3 linked regions of the Homo sapiens genome follow. The protein of the gene in region 1 interacts with the protein of each later gene in a pairwise test. Each region holds a gene or a part of one and is shown on either strand. Other genes may lie near its edges.

Region 1 (8,010 bases):
TTAGCTTATCTGGTGTAAAAATCATAGAAAAAGCATTGTTAAATGTAAAATGGTATTTGGCTTTCTTTGGTTTAAAAACTAATAAAAATAGGTGCTAAAGAAAATTTCTCAGTAAAAAGGCACTAAGGACTAAGTCCACTGCCAAGGTCCCCACATTTAAAACAAAAGGTCAATTTCTTAAAAATTATATACTTGGTTTATCTTCCACTTTCCTTTCCCTCAAAAACTAAAAGTCTTTTAGCACATGTACCACCCCTAGAATTTCCGGTAAACCAGCACCAGCCTGAAGATCACGTTCTCATCAAAGGGTGGAAAGAAGAAAAACTCGAGCCAGCCTGGGAAGGACCCTACCTTGTGCTGCTAACCACCGAGACTGTTGTTTGTACAGTGGAAAGGGGATGGACTCACCACACCCAAGTCAAGAACCCCCTCCAGAGTCGTGGGCCATAGTCCCAGGGGAAAACCTTACCAAACTAAAGCTAAGAAAAATTTAACTTTTTCATCTATTCTATTACTCTTCCTTCTTTCCTCGCTCTATTGCTAACCGTCTAGTTATTAACATTACCAAGTCAATTTTGCCTCAAACTATTGCATTTAATGCTTGCCTTGTTATACCCTGTGGGGACTTGCCAAGTCAAAGACAGCTCTTTACTTCAGAAAAGTACTTCTGTCCCTTCTGACTCTCCTCAGATTGGGCATTAGTAAATTAGGACCATTTAATCTGGGGAAATTTCGATAAAGATTCCAGTGTCAACCAGGAGTCTTGCCCCACAATGTAGAGCTTTTATGCTGTAGTTGGTCCAACATTCTATGGACCACTAAAGAGCAAGGATGGACTGCCCTAACTGGTTTTTGTAATTTCCTAAAATCATACATTCATTTTACTAGAGGATCATAGAAGTTAAAGACTTAAAACAAACTTTAGCAGTTAAGACAGGATACCAAGATGCAAATGCCTGGTTAAAATGAATCAAATATTCCATCTGCACATTAAACAAAAGCAATTGTTATGCTTGTGCACATGGCAGGCCAGAGGCCCAGATTGTCCCCCTTCCACTAAGGTGGTCCTCCAGTTGACCAGGCATAGGTCTGCATGGTAGCTCTTTTCCAGGATTCTACAGCCTGGAGTAATAAGTCATGCCAAGCTCTCTCTGCTATATCCCGAAGTCCGGCACCCTGCGGGTCAGCCCCCAAGGGCTATCCAGCTTCCGTCTCTCAACACTAAGTTCACTTCATGTCTCCCTGGCATTCCTTGGAGACCTGAAAGGATGCAATGAGCTTAAGAATTTTCAAGAGCTTATCCATCAGTCAGCCCTTGTTCATCCCCGAGTGGATGTGTGGTGGTATTGTGGTGGACCTTTACTGAGCACTCTGCCGAATAACTGGAGTGGCACTTGTGCTTTGGTCCATTTGGCTATCCCTTTCACCCTGGCATTTCATCAACCAGAGGGAGAAAAAAATAAGACATCGTAAAGTGAGAGAAGCCCCTTATTGGTCTTCCGACTCTCACGTCCATTTAGACACAATTGGAGTCCCACAGGGAATACCAGATCAATTTAAAGCTTGGAATCAAATAGCGGCAGGATTTGAGTCAATATTTTGGTAGGTGACAGTTAATAAAAATGTAGATTGGATAAACTATATTATAACCAACAGCAACAAGCTTTTCATGAGTTAAAACTCATGTCGGCCCCAGCCCTGGGGCTACCTGACCTGACAAAACCCTTTACACTCTATGTATCAGAAAAAGAAAAAATGGCAGTTGGAGTTTTAACCCAGACTGTGGGGCCATGGCCAAGGCCAGTGGCCTATCTCTCAAAACAACTGGACGGGGTTTCCAAAGGCTGGCCCCCATGTCTAAGGGCCCTGGCAGCAATGGCCCTGTTAGCACAAGAAGCAGATAAACTAACCCTTAGGCAAAACCTGAATATAAAGGCCCCCCATGCTGTGGTAACTTTGATGAATACCAGAGGACATCATTGGCTAACAAATGCTAGATTAACCAAGTACCAAAGCTTGCTATGTGAAAATCCCCGCATAACCATTGAAGTTTACAACACCCTAAACCTTGCCACCTTGCTCCCAGTATCAGAGAGCCCAGTTGAACATAACTGTGTAGAGGTATTGGACTCAGTTTATTCTAGTGGGCCGAACCTCCAAGACCATCCTTGAACATCAGTAGACTGTGAGCTGTACATTGACAGGAGCAGCTTTGCCAACCCCTGCAAAGTGACTCTGAAAAAGACGACAAGCCCTGCTCCAGTCATATCCGGAAGCTGACTAATCCACACACGGCTGAAGCATGAGAAAACTCATCACGGGACTCATTTTCCTTAAAATTTGGACTTGTACAGTAAGGACTTCAACTGACCTTCCTCAGACTGAGGACTGTTCCCAGTGTATACATCAAGTCACTGAGGTAGGACAAAAAGTTGCTACAGTCTTATTATTTTATGGTTATTATAGGTGTACCGGGACTCTAAAAAGAACTTGTTTGTATAATGCTATTCTATACAAGGTATGTAGCCCAGGAAATGACCAACCTGATGTGTGTTATGACCCATCTGAGCCTCCCATGACCACAGTTTTTAAAATAAGATTAAGGACTGAGGACTGGTGGGGAGGACTCATAAATGATACGAGTAAAGTGTTAGCCAAAACAAAAGAAAAAGGGGTGCCCAAACAAGTCACCTTGAAGTTTGATGCCTGTGCTGTCATTAATAGCAATAAGTTAGGAAGGGGATGTGGCTCTTTTAGTTGGGAAAAAGGCTATATGACCGAAAATAAGTACATTTGTCATGAATGAGGACTGTGTGAAAATGAATGTGGATACTGGTCTTGTGTCATTTAGGCCACTTGGATAAAAAATGAAAAGGATCCAGTCCACCTTCAGAAAGGAAAAAATGGCTCTTCCTGTACTAAGGGACAATGTAACCCCTTAGAGCTAGTAATAACCAATCCCCTTGATCCTCGCTGGAAAAAAAGGGGAGCGTGTGACCTTAGGAATCGACAGGGCTGGACTGGATCGTCGAGTAAATATCTTAGTTCGAGGAGAAGTCTGTGGAAAATTTAACCTTACCAATTGCTGCCTGCACATAGATGATCAGAGGCAAGTAGTCGAAGATATAGTTAAAGACATGACGAAACTGGCACATGTGCCTGTACAAGTGTGACACGGATTTGACCCTGAAGCTATGTTTAAAAATGGTTCCCAGTGCTAGGAGGATTTAAAACTCTTATAATAAAAATTATAGTAGTAATAGCCTGCTTACTGATCCCTTATTTACTATCTGTACTCATTCAAATGGTAAAAGGTTTCATCACTACTCTAGTTCACCAGAATGCTTCAGCACAAGTGTACTACATAAATCACTATCGATCTGTCATGCAGGAAGACATAGGTAGTGAAGATGAAGGTGAGAACTCCCACTAATAAAATGAGTGAGAGTCTCAAAGTGGGGGAATAAGGGAGGAGACCACCCCTCATATTGTCTTATGCCCAATTTCTGCCTCCAAAGAAAGAAGTAGTAAAAACTAAAAGGCAGAAATGAAATCCACAAGCAGACAGCCAGGCACCACACCCTGGGCCTCGTAGTTAAAGATCGACCCCTGACCTAATCGGTTATGTTATCTATAGATTACAGACATTGTATAGAAAAGCACTGTGAAAATCCCTGTCCTGTTCTGATCTAATTACCGGTGCATGCTTGCTCAATCGATCACTACCCTCTCAAGCGGATCCCTTTAGAGTTGTGAGGCCTTAAAAGGGACAGGAATTGCTCACTCAGGGAGCTCAGCTCTTGAGACAGGAGTCTTGGCCGATGCTCCTGGCGGAATAAACCGCTTCCTGCTTTAACTCGGTGTCTGAGGGGTTTTGTCTGCGGCTTGTCCTGCTACACTACAGCAAAAATTAGGTTGTATTATAGAAAATTAACTTTTTTGGTTTTTTTGAGACGGGGTCTCGCTCTGTCTCCCAGGCTGGAGTGCAGTGGCACCATCTCGGCTCACTGCAACCTTCACCTCCAGGGTCAAGCAATTCTCCTGCCTCAGCCTCCCGAGTAGTTGGGATTACAGGCACACGCCACCACGCCCAGCTAATTTTTTAAATTTTTAATAGAGATGGGGTTTTACCATGTTAGCCAGGCTGGTCTCAAACTCCTGGCCTCAAGTGATCTGCCCACCTCAGCCTCCCAAAGTGCTGGGATTACAGACGTAAGCCACCACGCCCAGCCGAAAATTAACTTCTATTAATTGCATACCTGGGTTTGCCTACTGAGAATCATACCCTGGATATTTGTATTCTTTACTGAAAAGAACTGTTCTATCTTTCCAGAAAGTGGTTTCCTAAATTCTGGTTTTCCTCCTGGAATCCTGCTATTTCCTTCTCGCATACTCTAGAGAAATCGAAGTGTTTTCAAAGGTGCTCTGAAGCTTACGCTCCACTAGTTTCACAGTAAATCGCCCCTTGCGAGGGCGCTTTTTTTTTTTTTTTAATGTGTTCTCTGAATCGCTTTCCCCCTTTAACACTGCATGACAAGACTAAAGCCAGAATCCCAAGACTGCAGCGCTACCCCTTCACAAGCCGTCGGGCTGTCCCGGGCGGGGCCGGCCCATTTTCACTTTCTCCACTAGAGGCAGCAGCGCACCGTGACCCTGGCTTACTACGGTAAGAAAGCGGAGACCTTTTGCTTCGAGGCGGTTGGTGGCCAGTAGTCTTGATCGACAAGCTCAGGCCTCTGAACTAAGCAGCCGCTGTTTATGCACGTACAGCCAATGGAAAGGCAGGAGTGCGGCCAACGGCCAATGAGGACTGGTCTTAAGCGGACCACAGGGCGGGGTTTCCCTCGAGAGGCGAACGCCGGGTAAAAGATCGGGAGCGGAAGTGGGCGAGTCAGAGCACATCCGGTGTTAGAAGCGCTGGTAGGCCTTGGAGAGGCGGGTTAGGAAGGTACGTCTGAACCTAGTACTGGGCGAACTGGGAGTGAGAAATGGAAAGGGAGTTAGCAGTTACTGTCTGAGCAAGAGTGGCAGTAGCTTCCTTCTGCGGACAGATGGCACCCTGAAGGAACGAGGCCCTGCTCGGAGACCAGACTCGGGAAAACAGGGTGTGGAGGGAAGCTAGGGAACTAGTGCTGCGCGTGCGCAACAGTGCTGAAGCGGGGGTGGGGCGGAGGCGAGTCTGCGGGGGTTTTGGGGGGTGTCGAGGCCTCTATTCTGCCCCAGAGCGCTGGCGAAGGCCCCTTCTCAGCCCGCCTTTTCCTTTCTCCCGCTCCTTCTCCTCTACTAAGTGTAGACGCAGGGCCCCTTGGCCTAGCTTCGATCGTTCGAATTCAGAGCACGTCCTTCCGAGGTGAAGGAACGCGAAACTCCACCCATCCGATTGCTGTTCGGCTGCGGGCGGGTCCTTTGGTCGGGCTGACCCTGGGTGAGCGGCCCGGAGCCAAGACTCGAGGTAGGGCCTGGCGGGCGGGTGATGTCACACTCCTCTGTGACACGCGAGGCTCCTCAGTTACTTAGCCAACGGCAGAGGCGGGAAGTGAGAGGAGTCTGGGGCTGGGGCTGCCTTCCAGGCCCACGGGGCGGCCCCGCTCTTTTCGGATTGGTTACCTTTGGGCAGGTGAGGTGGCTTTGCTTTGCTTGGTCTTGAGGTTTTGTGGGCGTCTTTCTAAGTCTGCTCAGCAAGGGCGTCGTTGGGCAGTTTTTATCTTGGGCCTACTTGCTGGACCTGTGGTAACAAGTAGGCTTTGGTATCTTTGTATATTTACTGAGTGTAGAATTACTACCCGGTGCCAGCCCGGGCTGCTTGGGGTCATCAGCCTTTCATTGACCACCCCCACAACAAAAATCACTATGAACTTGAGACTGTGTTCTAGCAACTTGTGAATGTGTAACCCAGTAGAAGGGCTGACTGTGCTTGAAACAGACAAGGATTTTAAGGTCAAAGGTAAATAAATGGCAAATGGACTTTTCTAGTTACTTATTGATATTTATTTACAGTTTATCTTTTGTATGTGTGGTTTAAGAATTGAATTCTGGAAAGATACCGGAATTGCATAAACACATTTCTTATGACCTGCGTATACACACTTTTTTCTGTAATTATTGTATTTACACTCTTTGGTGTTTTCTTATTCTTTGTGTCTAATATTTTTGTTCTGGCCTAAAGAATATGTTGACATTTAGATTCTCTGCCGCCACTTTCCTCCAGTAGGGACAGAATAGTTGAACCCTTGAGAAATACAATCTGTACTTTTGATCCATAGTTTGCTTCTTCCGTTATTTATCTGGTTGTGGAAACATGGTTTAGTACCTTCCTCCTCTTTTTTTTTTTTTTTTTTTTTGAGGCAGAGTCTCACTGTCGCCCAGGCTAGAGTGCAGTGGCGCAGTCATGGCTCACTTGAACCTTGACCTCTCCTGGCTTAGGTGATCCACCCCAGCCTCCTGAGTAGCTAGGACCACAGGTGGACGTCACCAGCTCCAGCTAATTTTTGTATTTTTTGTGGAGATGGGGTATCACCATGTTGCCCAGGCTTACCAACTCCAGAACTCAAGCGATTTATTTATTTATTATTATTATTATGTTTTTTTTTTGAGACAGTCTCACTCCCTTACCCAAGCTGGAGTGCAGTGGTGCAATCTCGGCTCACTGCAACCTCCGCCTCCCTGGTGCATTCAATTCTCATGCCTCAGCCTCCTAAGCAGCTGAGATGACAGGCGCGCACCACCATGCCCAGCTAATTTTTGTATTTTTAGTAGAGACGGGCTTTTGCCAAGTTGTCCAGCCTGGTCTCGAACTCCACACCTCAAGCGATTCGCCCGCCTTGACCTCCCAAATTGCTAGGATTACAGGTGTAATCCTTTCCTAAAGAAAAAGAGTCATCTCTCCTGAAGAATAAGAAAAGGTAAAATTAATCTAGATACTTAGCATTTTCAAGTTATTTTCCCTGATTATAGATATAGTTCGCGCTCTTTATACAAATGCTGAAAATGCAGAAAAATGTCATAGGAATCAATGTATGTTTTGGGAGGGTTTTTTTGTTTTAAAGATTTGTTTTCACCTATGGCTGAAACTTTTGAAAGCTTATATAAATGAAAGCTTATTTTTCTACTGTAGGATGGAATAGTAAAAAGAGCACTAGACTATAGTGGTCAGAAGACCCCAAATCTGGTTCTGGCTCTGCTATTTAACTTTCTAATGTTGGTCAAATCAATACTAATGTTTGTTTTAGTACTTTACGTTGATTTCACACAGATTTTCTTATTGGCATTCAGTAGAGCAGGTATTGATCATCATCGTTATCTTACAGATGAGGAAGCTGAAATAACCTTAGGTAAAATGATTTTTCCTAGGTTATATAGTAGAAAGTGGCAGCACTTGTGACACCAAATCCTGTCCTCTTGCCACTATTACATTGCCTTTTTGAACTTAAAAAAGATGTATAAAATGGGCCTAATCTTTCCCTTTCCTTGTGGGTTGATGTGTGAGGATTGAAGGTGATACATATATAAAAGCACCTTAAAAGTTATAAATTTTATATAAATATAGTCAGGAGTATTAGTATAGAAGGTACTACTGCTGGCCTGACGAGTTTCATTTTATTTCGTAAACTGCCCAAGGGTATTAATTTTCTCTAGAGAAACCATTGAATATTCTGATGCTCTAACTTCTGATTTTTTTTCCTTTACTACTTTGACCTGGTTGTAGAATCTGGTAGAAATGTCTTCTACCACTCTGTTTTGTTCCCCCAGAGTTTCTAACCAAACTGCATGCAGCCCTTCGTAGTTTTTATACACATTTTGTTTTCCAAAGATGGTGTTCGAGACCAAGGAGAGAAAGGCTGTCTCCTTGACTTAAAGGTTACCTAAGTGACCCCTTGAGGTAGGTTCCACTCTGAGCCAGCTGGGGAATGTTGATTTGAGGTTACAGCACTCTTGATCTGATAATAGGGTCTAAATTTGCTCTAGAGACTTTGTAGTGCTTAAATCTTGGGGATAGCTGAGCTGAACCAG
Region 2 (7,061 bases), on another chromosome or scaffold:
ACTGTTAACTTTTCAGGAGTTGGTGAGATCGTGTTAAACTGTCGATGGCTGGAAATTGGCCATGGGAATTGGACCACAGAAATGGACACCACAGAAATTGGAAAACACCACAAAATGACAGCATCCCCAGCCTGTTAAACATTTACCAGCACATCACTGTCGTCAGTCTTCTTCATTTTCAACATCCCAACTGCCATCAGAGAGAGGCCAATAGAGTCCGATATAGGACGATAATATAGCAATACACATGTCATACACAAATAAAGAATTACAAATGAGGGTAAACCTAAAACACAAGCGAACTTGATCATAACTGGTAGAAATGACATGTGAACACTGATAAGAATTGGAAGAGATAAGAGAATCTTGTAAATAATGAAGAACAGATTCAATGTGGTTCGATGCTGCTGCTATTTGGCAAGTTTAACTTTATTTCCTCAAATTAAAGATCCATGGATAAAGGAATAAAAAAAAAATAGGGGCTATGGTGGTAGGGATGGGCCTGGGATTGGGATAGGTCCCAGCTATGGGGCTAGGAGAGGAATAAAGCAGACATCAAAGCTGGAAACGACTTGTGTTTGAATCCCAGTTCCATCACTTCCTGCTGTGAGATCTTGGGCAAATCACTTAGTCTCTTGGAGCCTCAGTCCCTCATCCGTGAAATGGGGATACAAAGATGTACCTCGCCCACACTGGCCAGCAGACCAAGGCTCCCACTCCCCTGGGCCCTCTCTGGCTTCTTTCTCCTTAGCTCAGCAGGTCCACTTGGGGTTCTGGGCTCCCAGAGAGGTGCTTTATCCCCTACCCAGGCCCCATAGCTCCAGCCCCGGCCCCCTAGTGTCCCTGCATTTAACGATCCCTCCTTCAGGCATCCTACCCAGAGGCTGGTTCCCAGGCACTCTAGCACCTGTGGCTGGACTTCAATATCTGGGGAGGTGGAGGCCAGGAGGGGAGAGTTGAGGGCACAAGCAGGGCGAGGCCAGCATGTCCAGGGTGATGCTGTGGGCTGGGTCTGGAATGCAGCAATGGTTGGCCCAGCCTCGGGAGGCCTCAGGAATATCTCTGACACCAGGCGAGGAGTCTTCTTTATCCCCTGATATGTCTATCTTGTACCCAGCCTATGGAAATCTCCCTCCAGCACACCTGGGCAGAAAGGAAAGGCGCCGAGCCCAGCCCTGGACAGATCTGGGTCCGGTCCTGCTCTGACATCTACTACTGGTGTGACCTCGGGCAGCAAGAGTGAGACAATGGCCAAGACTCAGGCGGCTCCTTCTGTGCCCCAAGCCTTGCTCGGTGCTTGACCTGCATGATCTCCCTGAGGACTCAGTGCCCATAATGTTGGTACCAGGATTATGCCCCACCACCCCTCCCTCTTCCCTCTGCAGCTCCTGTCCCCAGCCTGGGGAAGGAGAGATATCTGTTACCTGGAAAGACGAACAGAGAGATCAGTAAAGACTCATCGGGGCCCCGTTTTTCGACCCCACACCAGTACTCCCCAGCGTCTTGCAGGGTGAGGTTCCACAGGGTCACAATGAGCGAGAGCTCCTGGCGGCTGTCACGGATGGACACCCTGCCCTTCATTGTCTCCTGGCCTTCTTCTTCTGCATAGATGGTGCCAGAGCAGCGAGAGAAGAGGATCCCACCCTTCCTGCACCAGTACTTCCGGTGGTCCCTCAGCTCTTCCCTGTAGGTGCACTGCAGGGACACAGTGTCCCCTTCGAACCCGCTGATTTCCTCTGGGCCCTCCAGGGCTTCATAACCTAAAATCAGAGCAGGAGTGGAGGTTGGAAAAACCAGGCTCCATGTACCAAGGTCAAGGCCAGAGCTTCCATTTTAGGAGGAAGAAGGAAGGCTTTTCTCAGTCATCCCTTCTGGGGACAGCCTTGGAAGAGCCATTACTAACCTCCCACGCTGGGGGAACTTGGGGCAGGGCTGTTGCTGTTTCCCTAACCCTGGCCCATTGAGGAATTGGGGTGCAGGGGTGGCGTTCTAGATTCAGATAGAATCTGACAGCCAGATAGCCAGCAGGGTTTCTGAGTGTTTTGTTTTGTTTTGTTTGTTTGTTTGTTTGTTTTTGAGATGGAGTCTCACTTTGCCGCCCAGGCTGGAGTGCAGTGGCCCGATGTCTGCTCACTGAAACTTCTGCCTCCCGGGTTCAGGTGATTCTCCTGCCTCAGCCTCCTGAGTACCTGGGACTACAGCCACGTGCTGCCATGCCCGGCTAATTTTTTGTATTTTTAGTAGAGACGGGGTTTCACCGTGTTAGCCAGGATGGTCTTGATCTCCTGACCTTGTGATCCGTCCGCCTCAGCCTCCCAAAGAGCTTGGATTACAGGCGTGAGCCACCGTGCCTGGTTTTGTTTTGTTTTTAGACAGGATCTCACTCTGTTGCCCAGGCTGGAGGGCAATGGTGCTCATGGCTCACTGTAGCCTTGACCTCTGGGGCTCAAGCGATCCTCCCACCTTAGCCTCCCACTAGCTAGGACTACAAGTGTGCACCACCATGCCTGGCTAATTTTGTTTGTTTGTTTGTTTGTTTGTTTGTAGAGATGGGGTCTCACTATTGCCAACTGAACAACTGACATCAGTTGTAGGATTTATCCTGATTTTAAGTGTTAGAAGGTAAAGAAAAAGAAAGCAAAAGAATTGATGAAACGTGATAATTCTTCATCTTTCAGGGTTGTGGGGAGAGGCATAGCCGAAATTCAACAAATATTTGCTGAGTTTAACAGGGCAACCAGATGGGGTGTCTTGTCCGCCTCCAGGCTTGGCACAGGGTAGAAAAATTAAGATTAGAGAGGCAAAGCAACTCTCACAGCCACATTGCCATGAGGGGAAACCCACAGGTCTGGAGAAAACCTGGCTCTAGGTTCCAGAAACAGCAAGTGCGGCCCCGGCGCCACCCCCACCTCCCCCCACCCCCAGCCCGCCCCGCTCCCCTAGGGCTGAGGAGGCTGAGGATAGGTGGGGTGGGGCTATCAGTCAGTCAAGAGGTCCTTTCCCTGCAGACCACAAGGGTGAGCCCCACATCCCTCCCGAGACCCTCTCCCCATCTCACCTGGGAGCAGCAGGCAACCCCATAGCAGGACCAGAAGCCGCATTCTGGGCGCTGGACACCGTGGGAGCAGACGCTGGGAACTGTGAGCTCCTCTTCAGTCACACGGGTCTTTAACTTTCTCTAGTCGCGTGAAACCAGGCCAAGGAAGCGAGGGGAGGGGCGTGTGGGTCATCCCTCCGCAGGCCCAGCCGGGGAGGCGCCTCTGCCTTCCCTTTTCTGAGCGCCCACGCGTGCCTACCCCAGGGCTCACCTTCCAGGACTGAAAACCCACACCAGAGTTTCTCCTAAACTCGTGCCCCTTCAAGGGGGCCTTAACCTGTGGTCCGTGCGCCCTAAGGGGTCTGTAAGTCGAATTCGCATGGGAAAAAGTTACATATTGACTTTCATCAACTTCTAATATTTAGCTTTTCCTCTTATTCAGAGTGTACTGTTAGCAGTACCTGCAACTTTGTTACCAATTACAATCACAGACACTGGCACATCAAGTTGTGGATATCTCGAAACGTCGTGTATACCCCTCACTGCTTGGAAAACAATGAGTTCCTAGACCTGCCCCTAGAGCTGGTTATTTACAATAATGAAACGGCTATTATTATATTACACATTTATAAAGAGTTTTAAGAATCATCTCACCAGTATTAGTTTTCTTTCCAGCATATATATTTTATTTATATATTTACCCGCCATTATACTGAGAGAGGGGTCCATAAACTTCACCAGACTGCCATGTGGTCAGTGGGACAGAAAGAAGCTTGCCCCTGGGGCAAGGCCCCTGGCCCCTCCTCCGCCCTTGCCTTTTGGAGGACGCAGTACTGCCCTTGGCCACGGGGCGGCGGTGCAGACGGGGCTGAGCAAAGCTGTAGGGCTGAGCTGGACCGGATTCCCTGGTGCCTTGGGCCTACAGCGCTGCAAGATAGGTCTCCTCCACGCCTGCGGAGTTGTTTTGGCATTTGAAAAAGTGAATTGGTGGTTTCTCCATCGCAGACTTGAATCCTCCTTGAAAGGACCAAAACAAACATGTACACTACTGGGAGCTCTGACACACTGGCTTCAAAAATGACTTTTTTTTTGGTTTGGTTGCAAAGTTCATACAGGTTGTAAGCAAAATTTTACACAATACAGAACGTAAAAAGGAAAGAAAGAAAAAAGGGAGTGCTTCTTGTAATTCCCCTTCTGCTTTAGAAAAGCACCATTAATATTTTGGCATATATCCTTCCAAATGTTCAGTTGGAATTTTACTGACTTGTCAGGTTAATATCTGAAGCATTAACTCAGTGGTTCTGGGAGGGAAGATTGTGTGTGTGTGAGTCTAGTAACGTGGGGAGAAGTGTTTTAATTTCACAATGACTGCGAAGCACTGCTGCCATTTAGTGGGCAGGGCCAGCTGTTCACGGTGGGGAAAACTGTTACCATGATCTCAGCCCCTGACTCTCTTTTACATGTACAGACTACAAAAGGTGATCTGTTTTTGCAGTTTTAAAAAAACACAGATTAAAAAATATTTATGGCCCAGCATGGTGGCTCACGCCTGTCATCCCAGCACTTTGGGAGGCTGAGGCGGGTGGATCACCTGAAGTCGGGAGTTTGAGACCAGCCTGACCAACATGGAGAAACCCAGTCTCTACTAAAAATATAAAATTAGCCAGGCATGGTGGTGTATGCCTGTAATCCCAGCTACTCAGGGAGGCTGAGGCAGGAGAATCGCTTGAACCCAGAAGGTGGAGGTTGTGGTGAGCTGAGATCACACCATTGCACTCCAGCCTAGGCAACAAGAGTGAAATTCTATCTAAAAAAAGAAAAAAAAGTATTTGTTTATTTACTTATTTTTGAGACAGGTCTCACTCTTGTTGCCCAAACTGGAGTGCAGTGGCGCCATCACAGCTCACTGCAGCCTCAAACTCCCAGGCTGAAGTGATCCTCCCACCTCAGCCTCCCAAGTAGCTGGCACTACAGGCGTGCACCACTGTTGCCTGGCTAATTTTTTATTTTTAGTAGAGACAGGGTCTTGTTATGTTGTCAGGCTTTTCTCAAACTCCTGGCTTCATGCGATCCTCCCACGTCGGCCTCCCAAAGTGCTGGGATTACAGGCACGAGCCACCATGCCCGGCCTTAAAGTAATACTTATTCTAGCATTTGATAGCATATCTTTGCTCTTCTATTTATTTATTTTTGTCCTTACACAGAATAATTTCTGATCCTCTACATTTCTTAAATTCAGACTTATTTATTATATGCAAGGACGAGCATCTGACACTTCATTATGCTTTCTAGTGTCATGGGACCTGAGCACTGACAGATTGAAATATGTGTTATTTGGTTATAAATTGCTTTCCTTTTATTTTTTCTCCCTAGTATAGCTCAGGCACTATAGTGTGATTTTAAAGAAGTAAGTGCTTGTGAAGGCATATTATTTATGATTGTCATTTTAGGAGAGTAAGCGAGGTGTTATTAAATGTTTATTTATATAAAGAGCATGTTGAGTGGATCCCTACCCTCTTCCTGCATATTTGAAGGTCCTTCCCCTCCATTTCCCAGCCCCACACCTAGCCCAGGAGGCTGGCTCAAGAACTCCATTAGAAACAGATTCACCAGACTGGGAAGTGGAGCAAGGGCTGGGGAGAAGGGTGAAAGTGAGGTGCTGGCATGAGCCTCGCACCTAGTTCCACCTTAGGCCACACTCTGGGGTAGATGGGGCCAACAGACAGACCTCCGTGGTGGGCTGGGGATCTGAGAAGAGAGGATATTTTTGTCCTGCTTCCCACCAGAAGCATGGGGAGGTGCCCCACCATCACTGCACCTGGGAGAGGCAATGAGGCACAAGGGCTCCTGGACAGGTCACTGGGCTCGTGACAGCCTCATCACATCCTCAGGAAGGCCTCTGTGTGCCCAAGAGGTACAGTGGCAGGGATGAGGGGACTGAGCTGCTTGGTCTTCGATGGCCACCCTGGTCCAATTCCTCTCGGTTTGGACTTGGACTAAATCACTTCAGCTGCTCCAAGAGGGTCACTTGCTCCTCTTAGATCAAGGTTTCCCCAACCTCAGTACTGTTGACATTTTAAGTTAGATAATTCTTTGTTGTGGGAGACTGTCCTGTGAATTATAGGATGTTTAGCAGCATCTCCAGCTGTACCCCCTAGATGCCAGTAGTCCCTTCCCAGTTGTGATAATCAAAAATGTCTCCAGGCTGGGTGAGGTGGCTCATGCTTATAATCCCAGCACTTTGGGAGGCCAAGGTGAGTGGATCACTTGAGCCCAGGAGTTTGAGACCAGCCTGGGCAACATGACAAAACCCCGTCTCTGCAAAAAATACAGAAAATTAGCCAAGCATGGCAGTGTGCACCTGTGGTCCCAGCTACACACAGGCTGAGGTGACAGAATCACCTGAGCATGGGAGGTCGAGGCTGTAGTGAGTCGAGATCCCATCACTGCACGCCAGCCTGGGTGATGGGAGTGAGACCTTGTCTCAAAAAAAAAAAAAAAAAAAAAAAGGCCGGGCGCAGTGGCTCACGCCTGTAATCCCAGCACTTTGGGAGGCCGGGGTGGGCGGATCACAAGGTCAGGAGATCGAGACCATCCTGGCTAACACGGTGAAACCCCGTCTCTAAAAAAATAAAATACAAAAAAATTAGCTGGGCATGGTGGCGGGCACCTGTAGTCCCAGCTACTCGGGAGGCTGAGGCAGGAGAATGGCGTGAACCCGGGAGGTGGAGCTTGCAGTCAGCTGAGATCACGCCACTGCACTCCAGCCTGGGTGACAGAGCAAGACTCTGTCTCAAAAAAAAAAAAAAAAAAAAAGCCTCCAGGCATTGTCAAACATCCCACTGAGAGGCAAAAATACCCTGGGTTGAGAACTGCTGTCTTAGATGATGAATAACTGTGGAACAAATAAGTGCACTTTTGTGTAAGTTATGTTTATTGTTTATGTAGGTCAGGGTGTTCCATCTTTTGGCTTCCCTGGGCCAAGAAGAAGAATTGTCTTGGACCACACATAAAATACAGTAAC
Region 3 (7,664 bases), 3.4 Mb from region 1:
ATCTGCATCTCGTTATTGGGCCATGAGAAATAGCAGCCCCAACCCTCAGTTTGGTCTGGGAATAGTGGGAGGTATGAAAATACAGACCCCCAGGGGTATACAGCTCTCTGAGGCTCATCCTCACAGTTGGATGGGGTGCTCTGTGGGGGAAATGACCCACCCAGGCACTTGGTTACATGTCTGTCTTCCCCACAAGACTGGGAGTGCCTCACAGACAGGAGTGGGGTCTGCCCCCCTCATTTCTCTGGCCACTAGGACTGGTACTCGGGAGGTGCTCAATGGAGGTTACTTGAATAGAACTGACTTGGAAAGGAGTGTGTATGGGTGTGCATGTGTGCACACACACACACATCTGCCTCAGGGCAAGGTGTCATTGAGAAGCATTTGAGAGTGGCCGGCCCTGGGAGGACAGACAAAGGGCCAACCAAGGCTGGGGAAGGAAGGGATCCTAGAGAGTGTTTCAGGTGGAAAGGTTGTTGGGAGCAATGTTGGTACATGTCCAATAACCAAAGGGGGAACCTGTGTCCTCTTGCCCCAAGGGCAGGTGGGGCACTGAGGACCCAGAGGGTCTGATCAGATAGGTGTGCCTGTCCCAGGTGGGAAGGGGACCTACCTGCCCTCATCAATGAAGTCGATGGCCAGGGTGCTGATGATGAAGACACACAGGCCAGCGATGAACATGTGGTAGATGGTGCGGAAATGCTGCACCTCCATCAGCTCACTAGAGGGACAGGGGCCCGAAAGTCAGTGTGGGAGGGTCCTCAGGGTTGTGTGAACTAGCTCAGACACTGTACACATGAGGCATGGGGCCTAGCGATCCAGAACTTCCAGCTAAAGGCCTTTCTTCCACAACCATGCCTAGGGCAAATAGGGGACCTGCACCTTAGAAACCCTTTCCAAGTCCTCTCCACAAACCACCTAGAGGCTGGGGATGAGAAATGAGGTACCTTGACCCCTAGCCAAAGCCCTTTCTTTTCCTCCCATTACTTGTCATCACCCCGACTTACTCAAGCAGGGACTTGCGGATGATGAAAACTTTCTGTTTCCCCAGGGATGGCTCCTGGGTCCTGAATTGAGATGTTTGTTCAGGGTCAGGAAAAAGTAAATGGGCAGAGGGCAGGGCCATGCAGAAGGTCAATACTTGGGAGCCAAGGGGAGTGGTAGGGAAAGGTCAGGGCTAGGGCCAGAGGGCAGGACCGGGTAGAAGGTCAGGGCCAGGGCAGAGCGAGGCCCAGTAGATGGAGGTCAGTGTTAGGAAGACAAGGGGGGAAGAGGGAAGGCTGGAGTCACGGTCCTGATAAAGCTGGCAAGGGCACATAACGTGATGTTTCTAGCTCATGATCCTTGCTACAGAGGAGCCCGCGCAGCCATTCCCCAGACTCACCTGCTCAAGGAACCTGGGGGAGGTGGGGGCAGAGGTTTGTCTTGTGATGGGTAGGATTGTATAGCCTCCCGCATGGCCCGATCCAGCAGCTCCCTCAGTTGTCCCTGCGCTTGCTCCAGCAATTGTGCCTTCACAGCCTACGGGACAAAGCCAGGGTAGAGCCCACTGTCCCTCCAGTCAGCCATCCTTTCATTCACCAGACATTCACTGAATTTCTGTCTATGCCAGGCACAGTGCTTTTTTTAAAAAAAAAAACAACCTGGGGGGTCAGCAGGGATGGGGGTTCAGTGGTGGCAGGCCTGCGGGGGGAAGGGCAGGCATTGGTGGGGTGGTGATGGGTCTGCTGGTGGGGTAGGACCCCGCAGTGCTAAGTGCTGTGGTAAAAAGATGAACAAGCCATGATCCCTGCCCAGAGTTGATCTCCTTCTGGCTTCCTGGGGCAGCAGCGAGGATCAGGGAGTGACAGCAGGAGCAAGGCTTCCCCTCCCTGGGTCTGAATTCCAGCCTGGTCACCTCCGATTGTCACTCCTCACCCCTGGCCTCCAGCCGCACTAGCAGGAAGACTCTATCTACTGGCTGACTTTTGGTGACCTTTGGGACCTGTGCTTCAAACCCCTCCATCTCCATCCTTAATTCGAATCCGATCTTTGCACTCAGGAACAAGTCATCAGGCTGGGCACCGTGGCTCACACCTGTAATCCCAGCACTTTGGGAGGCCGAGGCGGGTAGATCACTTGAGGTCAGGAGTTCAAGACCAGCCTGGCCAATATGGTGAAACCCCGTCTCTACTAAAAATATAAAAAAAAAATTAGCCACACCTGGTGGCACTCATCTGTAGTTCAGCTACTCGCTTGAACCTGGGAGGCAGAGGTTGCAGTGAGCCGAGATTGTGCCAATGCACTCCAGCCTGAGCAACAGAGCGAGACTTTGTTTCAAAAAAAAAAAAAAAAAAAAGTCATCTTTATCACCAAGCCTCACTCCTGCTTCCTGCTACCAAGGATCTGTCCACTTGACCTCTGACCTCTGACATCCCTCACCTCCATGTGTCGGGTCCATTGTACCAAGTCCGGGGCTCTGTGCGTCTCAGTGTTTCCTGTGAGGAGGGATCAAAGGCACAGTCAACAGGAGGAATTGGGGTTCTGCAGACCCAGAGGCATCCTGTGGTCAGGAAATGCTTTGTGTGCTCAGCAGCTGCCCTCACCCCAACCAGCCAATATCTAGTATCATGGTTGGGGCTACTAGAAGGGGAAGTTGCTGTTGCCAGTGGTGAGGAGGCCATAGGCAAGCAGGGGGCCTGGTGACATTACTGGGAACAGGGCACTCAGGGAATGGGAAGCTACTCCATTCACTATCTGGGGCTAAACAGTCAGAAGGATAAGGCCAGGCCACAGCTCTGACATAGCTCTTTTCTGTTCCATCTTCCAGCTGGGTGGCTCTGGGCTGAGGCCAGGGTCTACCTTCCTTGGCCTCTCTGGACAGCAGGAAGGATTGGCATCAGGCAGTTGGAGCCTTCTCTCCATAGCGCATCTCTCCCCGCCTCCCCCCCACTTGCCTGTGCCTTCTGCACCCCCGAGGGCGGCTCACCATCTCCACAGGGTTGGCGCTCCCGCTCCCCTCCCAGCCCTTCTGTCCTCTGCAGACGCAGACGGGCCCCGCCTGGCTCCATGGTGCGGTCTCCAGCGGGCAGCAGGCAGCCCTTGCCCGTGTTGCCTCCTTCCTTCGCAGTGTGGCCTGCCCTGTAGAGCTCTTGTCCCACTCAGCTCAGGTGACAGCTCCAAAGACTAAAGTCCTTTCAGGAGGAGGGGGCCTCTGGGAGTGCGATAGGTTATCTGATCTGGAGGCAGAGCTTCTCAGATTCAGACCTCACTCTGCTGTCTGTCGCAGGGATCGCCACATCCCCCTAACACCCCAACCACCATCCAGATGCCCAGCTCCAAGGGTGCTATCCACCCCGCCACACACACACAGGAATAGTGGCTGGGTACATCTTGGGGAGGGGAACTTTGCCTCTCAGAAGCTTGTCACCTAGCATGGCTGGCCTTCCAGTCTCTCTCCCAGCAGGCTGAAGGTCAGGGAGGAGTCAGAAATGTCTTCATGTATCAGTGCGTTCAGCTCGCTTTCACCACAAGGTGTGTGATTGACACATGTGGTAATATTCTGATGGGGTTGGCACTGTGCTACTCACGGAACTGGGGCCCCTCCAGGAAAGGCTGAGTGTCAGGGCCCCTGAACTGACAGGGCCGCTTCCTGACACCTGCTTGGGTGAGCATGTAGGCAGAAAGGAGACTAAACAAACACGTATTCAGCACCTAGGGAATACCAGGTATTGTCACATATGGAAGAACCGGATGCAAACCTCCCTCTGTCATTTACCAGCTATATAATTTCAGGCAAGTGACCCCAAATTTTAAGCCAGTTTCCTCCTCTGAAAAATAGGGGTAAAAATCCCTATATCACAAGGTTATCGTAAGCTCAAAATGAGGTTGTCCAGGTAAAATCACATGGTTCAGGGCCATGGGATGAGCTCATATATTAGTAATAATTTCCTTCTTTTTTTAGTAGGAAGTAACAGAAGGGTATGTGCTTTGAGAGTTCCTCTTTGCTGGGTTCCTGCTGGGATTAACTATTAATCCTTCCCCTCCCTTTGTGTCCAAAGATCAGTGTTAGAAACAAGGTCACAACTTCAGATTAAGGCCATGATCTCAGTGTCTCCCCTTCCCACTCCCAACTCCTGGTGGGCAGCTCTGTGAGGCTTGATGGCTTGAAGCTTCTGCCTGGCTGTCACAGGAAGGACTAAAGGTATCCACAGGAAAGGAGAAATGCTGTGAGTGAGCTGTAGTGGGGTAAAGAGAGGGCCAGGGATTCCAGAATTGTGAGAGGCAGACACAGAGACACAAGCCAGCGACCCCAAGCACAGCTTTATTGACACCCCAGCCAACACCAACACTCTTTCCAACCAGCGGTGAGGGGCCCATGGGGCGGGGCCTGAAGGTGGATTGAGGGCCTCGGTTTTTTGTTGAGTGATGACAGCTCCATGTTCCTTCCAGTGGCCCTGCAGCCCCTCTATCCCCCAGCTTTAGCCGCTACTCCCAGTGGGGCAGGAGGAGCTTCCATTGCCATCTGGAGACCCTGGCAGGGACTTGCCCATCCGATCCACACACCAGCAGGGACCTCGGCGCTGCCCCTGGGAGGAGCGGCACTGGAGAGAGAGGCACACAGGTCAGGAGTGAGGCCAGAGGCTTCCAGCAGGAGAATGAGAGGGGACATCTGAGTCTGAGGATGTAAAAACACCTGAGCGTCTCCTCGGGGGTTCCCTCTCTTTTTTTTTTTTTTTTTTTTTTTTTTGAGATGGAGTCTCGCTCTGTCGCCCTGGCTGGAATGCATTGGCATGATCTCTGCTCACTGCAACCTCCACCTCCCAGGTTCAAGCAATTCTCTTGCCTCAGCCTCCTGAGTAGCTGGGATTACAGGTGCATGCCACCACATCTGGCTAATTTTTGTAATTTTTAAAACAGATGGGGTTTCACCAGGTTGTTCAGGCTGATCTTGAACTCCTGACCTCGTGATCCACCAGCCTTGGCCTCCCAAAGTGCTGGGATTACAGGCATGAGACACCGCACCCGGCCCAGTGTTCCCTCTCTTTAGTTCCCCCTCTTCAACCAATAAATTGTGTGCATTCTGCTAGCCTGGAACAGTAGTTTTCAAAGTGACGTTCCCAAATCCGGATCACGAGGGAACATGTTAGAAATGCATATTGTCAGGCCCCACCCCACACCTCCTGAATCAGGAAGGCTGCCGGTGGGGCTCAGCTATCTGTGTGGCATAAGCCCTCCGGAGGATTCTGATGCCTCAAGTTCAAGAGCCACTGAGTTAGGGCATTCCTTAAGTGGGTTTTCTCTCACAGTGTGTGGTTGATTATTCTCTAAGTTTGTTTAATAAATTATATTCTCTATGTTCTCCTAAAGTTGGAAGATCCTTAAAGATGGGGCAGTGTCTTATTTATGCAGCTTTGTAAGCAGCACCGCCCCCACTCCCTGGCAGGAGCCTTCTGCTGGAGCAGGAGGAGAAGAAAAATAGTCTCACCTGCCGCTTCCGGTAGAAGCCTCGATGGTCACAATTGGGCACGTAGAGTGTTTGAGCCCCTCGGTAGACCTCAGTCTGGAGTTGCTGCAGCACTGAGTCCAGATGTCTACGGCATGGGCCCTGGGGAAGGGAGAGTAGGCAGCTTAGAACCGCTCCAGCCCAGCTCCCCATTCCAACCTTCTGGCCCACCAGGCAAGCACCCAGGACAGACAATGGAGACGTCTCCAAGCCCAAGGGAGCAGTCTCAGATGGAAGTCTCCAGGGCTTCCCACCCCTCCTGCTCCCTACCAGCTCCAAACGCACCATCTCAGTGTCTTGGACACCCGCAGAATTGGGCTGGGAGGGCGTGGTAGAGGTGCCTGGATTCCTCTGTTGGTCTCTGCGGTTCACATCCTGTGGGCGGGCAGTGCCTGCTTGGGGTTTACTCTCCTTAGGATTCTCCTCTGCAACTGGAGGAGGAATAGGAGAAGGAGAGGTCAGAAATCAGGCAGAGCCATGTGGAGAAGGGCCTTGCCCACATCACCTGCTGAAGTAAGGAAGGGAGGGCCTTATGCCCCGCTGTTGCATGATGCTGGCCCTAGTTTCTTTCTCTGACAAATAGTTATATTACTTTTCCTGACAATATTCCCCAGTATTTCCCATACTGATTTTTAAGGCTTATAAAGGAGATGAATTTTGGAAAGCAAAAATGGAAAATGAGGATGGGTGCAATGGCTCACGCCTGTAATCCCAGAACTTTGAGAAGCAGAGGTGGGAGGATTGCTCGAGCCCAGGAGTTTGAGACCAGCCTGGGCAACATAATGAGAACCTCATCTCTACAAATAATTTATAAAATTACCGAGGTGTGGTGGCGTGCACCTGCAGTCCCAGCTACTTGAGAGGCTGAGGCAGGAGGACTGCTTGAGCCCCAGAAGTCAAGACTGCAGTGAGCCATGATTGTGCTACTGCACTTCAGCCTGGACAACCGAGTGAGACCCTGTCTCAAAAATAAATAAATTATTGGCTGGGCGCAGTGGCTCATGCCTGTCATCCCAGCACTTTGGGAGGCCAAGGTGGGCAGATCACTTGAGGTCAGGCGTTCGAGACCAGCCTGGCCAACATGGTGAAACCCCGTCTCCACTAAAAATACAAAAATTAGCCTGGCATGGTATCAGGCTCCTGTAGTCCCAGCTACTCCGGAGGCTGAGACAGGAGAATCGCTTGAACTCGGGGGGGCGGAGGTTGCAGTGAGACGCTGGACCACTGTACTCCAGCCTGGGCAACAGAGTGAGACTTTGTCTCAAAATAAATAAATACTTTTTAAAATTAATTAATTACTTAATTAAAAAAAATTAACTACTTAATTTTAAAAAATTAATTAATTACTTAATTTTAAAAAATTAACTAATTACTTAATTTTAAAAAATTAACTAATTTAAAAATCAATCAATTAATTACAATAAATAATAAAATAAATGAAAAAATGGAGAACAAATTCAAAGGACTATTTGGGGCTTTGGGCTTTGGGTGAAAAGACCTGGCTGTTCCACCAGAGGCCAGAAGGGGGCGCACGAAGCCGGAGAGCTGGGGCAGAAGAGCAACGGATGTAGGAGGGGGGCCAACAGGGACCCAAAAGGAATGTGTGTCCCTGCTGTGACCTTGCTATGACTCAACCCACCCCTCCCAGGCCTGAGATGTGGTTACTTCTGGGGCACTGCAGTGGGAACCTCTCCCTTCTGGTACCCTGTGACCCAGGCCAGCTCAACCCCAGTGGTCCCAGGAGCACATGGATTCAACCCTTAACCAAGATAGGCTGAGGGCAGATTAAGAAGGTGCAAGGAATGAGGGGCTTCCAACCTGCAGGTTGCTCCTGGCTCTGGAGAAAGTTTCCGGAGGGTCCGGGGAGAGCTCAGGACTGGGAAGGGGTGAGGAAATAAGTCAGGGACAGGAAAAGGCAGAAAGGGGAGCATGTACTGACTGCTTGGAATTTGCCTAACATCTAATCAGATATCAGAACCCCTGAAGGGATCCTCTTCCTCTGTGCCTAAAGACAAGCTCCCAGCTAACTACCACTCACAACCCAGGAGACATTTCCCCTGCAATCCTGAGTCTGATCCTTCTTCCTCAGGATGCCCACCCCTCCCCAGACCTTCTCCTTCATTCCCTACATTTAGCACCCAACCATTTAGTTCCAAACTGCCTCCTCTCATCCACCCAG

The links.
Region 2: the proteins of TMBIM6 (region 1) and CD300LG interact in binary tests that used the Homo sapiens proteins (3 or more experiments, as listed by UniProt).
Region 3: the proteins of TMBIM6 (region 1) and SOAT2 interact in binary tests that used the Homo sapiens proteins (3 or more experiments, as listed by UniProt).

Annotation. Positions count from the first base shown.
Region 1 is NC_000012.12:49,736,664-49,744,673, forward strand, and holds the start of TMBIM6 (bax inhibitor 1), read left to right. Parts: upstream 1-4,893; 5' UTR 4,894-4,948; exon of another isoform or gene 4,949-5,105; intron 5,106-5,205; exon of another isoform or gene 5,206-5,473; coding exon of another isoform or gene 5,474-5,617; intron 5,618-5,774; exon of another isoform or gene 5,775-5,944; intron 5,945-6,753; exon of another isoform or gene 6,754-6,902; intron 6,903-7,749; exon of another isoform or gene 7,750-7,879; intron 7,880-8,010. UniProt on the Homo sapiens protein: Endoplasmic reticulum (ER)-resident protein that confers cellular protection as an anti-apoptotic protein by limiting multiple stress-inducing pathways surrounding the endoplasmic reticulum and mitochondria.
Region 2 is NC_000017.11:43,843,257-43,850,317, reverse strand, and holds the start of CD300LG (CMRF35-like molecule 9 isoform 1 precursor), read right to left. Parts: upstream 3,143-7,061; 5' UTR 3,102-3,142; coding exon 3,059-3,101; intron 1,761-3,058; coding exon 1,425-1,760; intron 569-1,424; exon of another isoform or gene 17-568; intron 1-16. UniProt on the Homo sapiens protein: Receptor which may mediate L-selectin-dependent lymphocyte rollings. Binds SELL in a calcium dependent manner. Binds lymphocyte.
Region 3 is NC_000012.12:53,098,964-53,106,627, reverse strand, and holds the start of SOAT2 (sterol O-acyltransferase 2), read right to left. Parts: upstream 3,143-7,664; 5' UTR 3,051-3,142; coding exon 2,969-3,050; intron 2,478-2,968; coding exon 2,422-2,477; intron 1,522-2,421; coding exon 1,385-1,521; intron 1,068-1,384; coding exon 1,008-1,067; intron 722-1,007; coding exon 614-721; intron 1-613. Other genes in the region: IGFBP6 (insulin-like growth factor-binding protein 6 precursor), read right to left, coding at 4,461-4,583, 5,468-5,587, 5,771-5,916. UniProt on the Homo sapiens protein: Catalyzes the formation of fatty acid-cholesterol esters, which are less soluble in membranes than cholesterol. Plays a role in lipoprotein assembly and dietary cholesterol absorption.